Homo sapiens: one gene and its partner. The protein of the gene in region 2 purifies or fractionates together with the protein of the main gene of each other region. This does not show direct contact. Each region holds a gene or a part of one and is shown on either strand. Other genes may lie near its edges.

What was found.
Region 1: the proteins of NSMCE2 (region 2) and PDS5A fractionate together in Homo sapiens (co-fractionation; one study listed by BioGRID). This does not show direct contact.

The regions. Positions count from the first base shown.
Region 1 is NC_000004.12:39,862,855-39,867,080, forward strand, and holds part of PDS5A (sister chromatid cohesion protein PDS5 homolog A), read right to left. Parts: intron 4,144-4,226; coding exon 4,007-4,143; intron 606-4,006; coding exon 482-605; intron 220-481; coding exon 15-219; intron 1-14. UniProt on the Homo sapiens protein: Probable regulator of sister chromatid cohesion in mitosis which may stabilize cohesin complex association with chromatin. May couple sister chromatid cohesion during mitosis to DNA replication.
Region 2 is NC_000008.11:125,363,672-125,368,378, forward strand, and holds the end of NSMCE2 (E3 SUMO-protein ligase NSE2), read left to right. Parts: intron 1-3,096; coding exon 3,097-3,214; 3' UTR 3,215-3,449; downstream 3,450-4,707. UniProt on the Homo sapiens protein: E3 SUMO-protein ligase component of the SMC5-SMC6 complex, a complex involved in DNA double-strand break repair by homologous recombination. Is not be required for the stability of the complex.

The DNA of each region.
Region 1 (4,226 bases), on a different chromosome or scaffold from region 2:
TCTGAGTTACTTACCAGTAGCCATAGGATTCTGCTTAATGTATTCCCTGCGTATACTGATATTTTTCAGTAAACATTGTCGTGCGTGTGCTCTTCTCTCCTTCACAGGATCTTTGGCACACAAGGCAAAGATCGCCATATACTCCAATGGGAGCAGTAACTTCACAAGTGCCTTATGCAGCTTCTGAGCAAATATCTGCCTTACTTGGTAACACTCATCCTACAGCAGCACAGAAAAACTTAAATTGGCAACCATTTATTAAATAAAAAACAGCAGTTTAAGTATTTTTAGTGTCTTCAATTAAAAAGAAGATAATTATATGGGAGAATAAATAATGTAATAATTGGAAGACAGTTAAACAGGTAATAATAGTAGTGACTTTTGTGCATATATTCACATTATAAATGGATTTGTATCCATAGAAAAGTAATGTATTCAACTTTGAAGATAAGTAATTGACAAAAATAAGATTGTTACTTACATTAATAACAAGTGCACAGAGCTGAAACTGTTCTGGGGTAATAATTTCATGGTAACAAGGTTCCTGAGCAAGCTTCATTATGGCACTACCAGCAGCTAATCGCAAGCGAGACATATCAGATTTACTATAAACAAACAAAAAAGAAATAAACATTTCCTATAACCACTATCATTCATAAAAATGCTTTCGTCCCTTTTTGAATGTAAGGTCCTTAGAGCATAATTTATGTTTAAAATGACGTACAAATATGGGAAAGCTACTTTGAGTCCATGAACTTAACACAGGGGATTGTGACTTTCACAATCAAATCAAATCATTGTGACTTTCTGATTACAAATTTACCTGCCTTCATTTCTAGTCAAACTCTAGCTTAGATACTTCACCACAACCCAAAAACTCTGCTTATTCTTGCAACCATAGTAATTGCAAGGCTAGGAAAAACTCTTTACATCAGGAGCTGTATCCCTCATTTTAAGAGAAATACATATTGATTGTAGAAAACTTGATTAAAGTGGCCAGGCATGGTGGCTCACACCTGTAATCCCAGCACATTGGGAGGCCGAGGTGGACGGATCACGAGGTCAAGAGATTGAGACCATCCTGGCCAACATGGTGAAACCCTGTTTCTACTAAAAATACAAAAAATTAGCTGGGTGTGGTGGCACGCACTTGTAGTCCCAGCTACTTGGGAGACTCAGGCAGGAGAACTGCTTGAACCTGAGAGGTGGAGGTTGCAGTGAGCCAAGGTCGCACCACTGCACTCTACCCTGGCAACAGAGTAAGACTCTGTCTCAAAAAAAACAAAAAACAAAAAACAAAAAACAAAAAAACTTGATTAAAAAAACCACAAAGAATTAAAAAAAAAATCACCTATCATCATTTAAAATCTATTTCCTGCATATAAACATGTAACAGGAATCTAGTTTAATGCCTGCTGAAATGGCAGGGCTGCAGTTAAGAGTGAAGAAGTATCAGACAAATACCTAAAGGATATGAAATATAAGAGGCCAGTGTCTGTCTTAGGTACTAGTTCCTGGGGCTGATCTCCTTTTGCAGAGTAAAGTTTTCAAATGGAACCTATGAAGCCTTGGCACTCCCACCCCGACACTGTGGATTTTTATTACTTACGTGGTAAAATGTGGTAATGAATGGGATGGCATGGGAGTCTTTCTACTTCGACTTCTATGTGGAACATAGCATGGCTTTTGTATTTATTGTGACCACTTTACGAAATGCAGAAAGCTAGCCGGAACCCACTGGGACTGTTGCTAAGCATAGAGAGAAGAAAACCTGGCACTCTTGGACAACAGGATTGTTAAAATGAGCACTGGTAACAATGAGGGAGCCTCAAATGGTTTCTATGGCATTCATTCAGGAATCAAAGTTAATAGCTATTATGTGAGTGCTTACTCCGTGCCAGGCAGGTGTGAAAAACACTTTATAGGCTTTATCTCAATTAATTTTCACTCCATAAGATGAGGAAATTGAGGCTTACAAAAGGTAATACTATATTATATGATATCCAGTTAGGATCTGTCCAATGGGTGTTCATTCTATGGTTAACCATTCCCCTATTTTTTGTGATGGAAAATAATGCTGGAGGAACATGCTTGTGTATAAGCTTTCATATGATTCTTTTATACTCATGAATTATGAGTGTAAAAATAAAGAGTCAAGGATAACATTTTTGAGGATCTAGATGCAAAATGCCAAAGAGTCCTGCTAATTTATACTCATAGGAGTAATGAAGGAACCCATTTCCATGATCATACTGAGGAATGATTGCTTATAACGTTTTTTTTTCTTTCTGATTTGTAATGAAAAGAGGTATTGATTAAGTTTAAATTGTATTGACTGCATTTAGTGATGTTAAACTTTTAAAAGTAAACTGATAATAGCTAAACTTCATCTCCACTGGGGGTCCTGCCTAGGTATCACTGACTTGTAAGAGCTCATTATTATGCCTTTGCCATGTACTGTACATAATTACCCCCAATTTAAAGCTTTCATTATCCCTAACTCAGCTCTAAACAGTGTTATAAAAGGCTGCCTTTGGCTTATTCTATGATAAAAATAGAGCGTAGTGGTGCACACCTATAGTCCCACTACTCAGGAGGCTGAGGCAGGAGGATTGCTTGAGCCCAGCTAGCCTGGGCAACATAGTGAGATCCCATTCCTAATCACAATAATTTTTAAAAAAATTAATAGCATAGCAGTACCACATAACTAGCCAAAGCTGGAGTACAATGGCGTGATCTTGGCACACTGCAACCTCCACCTCCTGGGTTCAAGTGATTTTCATGCCTTAGCCTCCCCAGTAGCTGGGATTATAGGCACGTACCACCACACCTGGCTAAATTTCTATATTTTTAGTAGAGACAGGGTTTCAACATGACCTCAATTGATCTGCCTGACTTGGCCTACCAAAGTGCTGGGATTACAGGCGTAAGCCACTGCACTCAGCCTCATAAAGAATGATTAAACCTCTGTCCTCTAAAACAAATTTTTAAAAAGGAATGCATCATATGTAGAATACTTTAGTTATCTATGTTGGTAATCTTGGCCCCTACTAAATCAAGAATTTGACAGAAACCAGGATCATGAAAAACTGAGCTTCTATTTTCATCTTAAAATGAGATGGCAATTTTAGAGATTAAAAGTGAAAATGTGTAACAATGTAAACAATCTCTGTGTGCACATACAAGTGTACACACCCAAATCTGTAGAACAACAAGAAGGCTTCAACTCTCCCTTGAGTTGCCATTGCAATTTTTATTTTTATTTATTTATTTATTTTGAGACAGGCTCTCGCTCTGTTGCCCAGGCTGGAGTGCGGTGGCACGATCTCAGCTCACTGCAACCTCTGCCTTCTGGTTTCAAGCGATTCTCCTGCCTCAGCCTCCTGAGTAGCTGGGATTACAGGCATGTGCCACCATGCCTGGCTAATTTTTGTTTTTTGTTTTAGTAGAGACGGGGTTTCACCATATTGGCCAGGCTGGTCTTGAACTCCTGACCTCGTGATCTGCCCGTCTCGGCCTCCCAAAATGCTGGGATTACAGGCATAGGCCACCGCGCCTGGCTGCCACTTAAATTTTTATTACTTTCATGGGACTCAAGTCACTCCACTTATTTAATCGCTTTAATACAGGGATGCTCTTTGAAGGCAGGGACTTTTCCTACTTATTTTTGCTGCAATGCTTTTCACAGTGTTTTATGAAGTAGAAGTTTAACAAATACTTGTTTAATTGAACCAAATGTTGATGCTAACTGTAATAGTACAATATAGTGATTATGATTATGTATTTACTGGAAAAAGTTCCTCTTCTTTAGGAATGAAGAAAAATATATTGGCACTATTAAAATAACAATACTGACAGACAGACAAACCCTAAATGAGTACATAAGATCTGACCCTGAAGATCATGGTGTAATTACACCATTCAGTATTCATTAGGTAAATAATTCCTATGTAAATTCCACCAAAATTTCAGCACTAAGAAAACTGGAAAGAAAGAAAAATCTCACCTGATCCTCTTTTGCTCTGTCAGGTCACCCTCACTAACCAACATCGCTGATAATAACCGAAGGGTTGAATTGGCAGATTTAGACTGGTTGTTTTTCATACCCAACAGCCACCTTACCAGAAGTTTAATTGCCTGTACCTATAAAATATTAACATGCTAAAAAAAGAAAGCAACTTAAAATTCCAATTAAAGGGAAAATTAATTTAATTAGATTAATGAGA
Region 2 (4,707 bases):
GGAGGGAGGGAAGGAAGGAAGGCAGGAAGGAAGGAAGAAAGGAAGGAGAATTCGCTTTGAGACTTCACAGCGTAGGGGGACAGGCTGGGAAAAAAATACAGATTTTTAAACTAGTGTAAAACATTTCTCCAGCCTTGCCCTAATGCAAAGCCAAATCATCAAAATGATGCATACCTGGGCCAAATCACCCTGATCCTCTTTCATATAATTGCCTTTCTGTAATTATGATTTAACACATCATGTACCTGAGTATGTAGGGCACTTTTTTTTTGTTTGTTTTGTTTTGTTTTGAGACAGAGTCTTGCTCTGTTGCCCAGGCTGGAGTGCAATGGTGCAATCTTGGCTCACCGCAACCCCCACCTCCTGGATTCAAGTGATTTTCCTGCCTCAGCCTCACGAGTAGCTGGGATTACAGGCATGCGCCACCACGCCTGGCTAATTTTTGTATTTTTAGTAAAGATAGGGTTTCGCCATGTTGGCCAGGCTGGTCTCAAACTCCTGACCTCATGTGATCCACCTGCCTCGGCCTCCCAAAGTGCTGAAATTACAGGTGTGAGCCACCGTGCCTGGCCATATTTTAATATTTTAAAAATAAATACTGTTATTAAGCATATTATATTTCATTGATTAATACCCCTCTAATGTAAAAACTCCTTGATCCACAGATCAGGGCCAAGAAATACTTTCTTTCATGTTGGACTGTTGGGCTTCCTACCACTAGACAAATTGGAGCTCCCATGACCAACTTTCTTTCCTTCTGGTTTGCATCTTTACTGTGGTTTGCACATTTGTTGTTTTTGGTCTTAATATCCTGTGCTTTATGGAGAGCTGTCTCAGATCACTGGGCCAGAGCTCTGTGTGGGCAGGAACCATGTATTTGTATTTCACAGTTGCATGCTTAGAACCTAGCATAGGGCTGATCCCTAGAAGAGTCAATTAATGCATGAATGGGTGCATGCCTGTGTGGGATATATGCAAGATAGAAATAGATCCAGAACTTTAAAACTTCTTGGAAGAATGATGATGAGGGAACACATGATAGTCACAGGGGATCTGGAAGGGAATTAACATTATTGAGCACAGAGGATCTGGGAGGGAATTAACAGTATTGACTGTCACCTTGGGAAATAAGGGTTCTCTCCCCATTTTAACTCAGAGGCAAGGGAGGCTCAAGAGGGTTATTGTGAATTGCCTGTGGTCTCATAACTAGCAAGTAGGTGGTAGAGAGAAAATTCAGACCTAGGTTAGCTTGACTCCAAACATTGGGCCTCTAATCTACCAAAATTTGGTTCACTTTGAGAACCAGATTCTTTGAGAAGAAATAGGTGGTTTCATCCAGCCCACTGCCCTCAGAGAAGACCACATCGAAGCAGAGCCGTGGCTTGTTTCCACCCCTTTGTGGGTGACTCACTGATGTCTTTAGCTGCAGCCTTTCCACCGAGTCCCAGTGGCCCACTCAGTCTCTCTTCTAGGAGGGCTACTGGGCATCCATTCCAGAGGAAACAGATACCAACCAGGACTGTGGTTCTGTGCTGCAGCCTGTTTTGCCCCATCGTTTCCCACTGTGATGAAGGGCACTACCAGTCACTGATCTACCCAGATGAAGCTCGCTTCTTCCCTTTCGCTTATGCTCCACAGCCACTCCATCGGCAAGTCCTATAGGTTCTATGGTCAAGCATGTCCTGAAGCTGATCGCCATACCACCCTCAGCCGAGCTGCCCTCACCTCTCTCCTGCACCCTGCAGGATCCCCCATGCTATTTTCCCTGCCCTTCTCTTACCTCCCTGTTTTGTATTCTCCATAAGCAGCCAGAGTAACATTTTCCAGATGTAAACCAAACACACTCCTCACCCATCTCAAAACCTTCCAGTGTTTTGTCTTCATATTTAAAATAAAATCCAAGTCCAGGCACGGTGGCTCATGCCTGTAATCCCAGCACTTTGGGAGGCCGAGGCAGGTGGATCACTTGAGGTCAGGAGTTCGAGACCAGCCTGGCCAACATGGTGAAACCCCATCTCTACTAAAAATACACAAAATTAGCCAGGCATGGTGGCAGGCGCCTGTAATCCCAGCTACTCAGGAGGCTGATGCAGGAGAATTGCTTGAACCCAGGAGGCGGAAGTTGCAGTGAGCTGAGATCACGCCACTGCACCCCAGCCTGGGTGAAAGAGTGAGACTCCATCTCAAAATAAATAAATTAATTAAATTAAATAAACTCCAAAGCCCCATTGGCGCACTGACCTCACTTCCAACTGCTCTCCCTCTTGCCTGGGTCGCTGCAGCCACATAGAGCTTGCTGTCACTCCAGGGCACCAAGCTGGAACGTCCTCAGCACTGCACTTGCTACTGCCTCAGCCCAGACCACATGCAGACTTGTTCCCACGCTTCATTCTGGGTCCTGCCCTAGATAAGATGTGTTCGGTGAGGCATGCCCTGAGTCCAGCCAGTGAAGCTGTGGCCCCAGCACTCTCTCTCCCTGACCCTGCTTTGTTGCCCTCATAGCCCATAAGGTGACCTGAACTTGCAGCAAGCATTTATTTGGTTCCCTAGTGGTTGCCTGTCTTCCTCATTAGAAAGATAGCTCATAGGCTGGGCGCGGTGGCTCACGCCGGTAATCCCAGCACTTTGGGAGGCCGAGGCGGGCGGATCACGAGGTCAGGAGATCGAGACCATCCTGGCTAACACGGTGAAACCCTGACTCTATTAAAAATACCAAAAATTAGCCGGGCGTGGTGGTGGGTGCCTGTAGTCCCAGCTACTCGGGAGGCTGAGGCAGGAGAATGGTGTGAACCCGGGAGGCGGAGCTTGCAGTGAGCCAGGATCGTGCCACTGCACTCCAGACTCCGTCTCAGAAAAAAAAAAGAAAGTTAGCTCATGATAAGGCAGGCACTACTCACATATCGCTTGTGTCCCCAGCACCCAGACAGGGCCTGGCTCAGGTAGGGACTCAGTGAATAAATGAATGAGCACAGCTTGGTCCTGATTTTGACACTTTTCCTTTTTCAGTAAAATGCCTTACTTAAACACTTGAGTATAAAAGAAGTTTCTGCTTAAGGCAGTAAAGGGGACTGACTTGATGTTCTTTCTTTCTCACAGTTGCCCTCAAATTGGCTGTAGCCACACGGATATAAGAAAGTCAGATCTTATCCAGGATGAAGCACTTAGAAGGGCAATTGAGAACCATAACAAGAAAAGACATCGTCATTCCGAGTAGGAAAAGCCACCTGCCTGCAGGGACACCAGCAGCCTACCTCCTACCCCAGCTGTCTGTTGAGAGCAGTGCTGACCCCAGCAGTTAGGGACTGGCTGCATAGCATACTTGTTGGGGGTAAAACTTGTTGCTTTTATGTGTGCTTGAAAACATTTTTCAAAGTTACACAACAGAAATGCAATCATATTGTTTATTTTTAAGTGTTCTATAATGTTAAATAAAACTTTGATCATCTGCAGTGTCCTCCCTGCATGCCTCCTGATGTATGGATTGTTCCAGAGGTGCAGGCTTTTCCATTTCAAGGACATCAGACTGATTTTTATAATAGTTTTGACTAAAGAATGTCTTTCAGCCAGGTGCAGTGGCTCATGCCTGTAATCCCAGCACTTTGGGAAGCCGACGTGGGCAGATCACTTGAGGTCAGGAGTTCAAGACCAGCCGGGGCAACATGGTGAAACTCCGTCTCTACCAAAAATCCAGAAATTATCCAGGTGTGGTGGTGCGCACCTGTAATCCTAGCTACTCGGGAGGCTGAGGCAGGAGAATCACTTGAACCCAGGAGGCAGAGGTTGCAGTGAGCCGAGATCGCACCACTGCACTCCAGCCTGGGCGACAGAGCAAGCCTCTAAAAAAAAAAAAAAAAAAAAAAAAAAAAAAAAAAAAAAGAATGTCTTTCAAGTGATATTTGAAATTGAAACATATAAAAACACCCCTATTGGGAGGCATTTTCTATGAGTATAGTAAATAATAGCATTTGGTTATAAAGCAAAGTCAGTTTACTTTCTTGTATTTACATTGTATATTGACAGTTCCAAACATATAAATGCTTTTATTGTCATTCTGAATGGAATAGAATGCTCCAGTGACTGGCTAATCAGTGCATTGCAGTGATGATTGATGCCTATAATGAATACTTTGCTGCAGCCCTCCAAGAGCCTAAAGTACCATCAACAGTAACCACATTCCAGCTGCTCTCTGTTTTTCTAGATGGTTCACTGCAAGTGACTTCATCCCTCTGGATGTTGGTGTCTTCAGCCATAAAGTGAAGGTGTTCAACAAGATGCTCTCTAATGTCTCTAATCAACAAGATGCTCCCTAATGTCCTGTGACCCCTGAGAGTCTATGGACTGACACCAGCAGGGTCTTTAAATTGAATGTCTTCAATTATATTCTAATTGTGTGATGAGCACCAATCTATTGTCTCCATTAGCAACCTTTTATCAACCTTACTATTTAATTAAACCAAATTTGAAGCATACCCTGATGGCACTGGAAAACCAAGAATAGCTAATAATAGCTAACATTTATTGAGTACTTATTTACTGTATACCAGGTGCTATTCTAAGTGCTTTACATTATATTAACTCCTATAATCTTCATAGCCCAGTGAGAGAAGGACAGTTCTTACAGATAAGGAAAAGTAGGCACAGAGAAGCGAAGTCACCCATGGAAAGTCAGAGATGGAACTAGGAAATGGCTGAGCTGGGACCAGAATC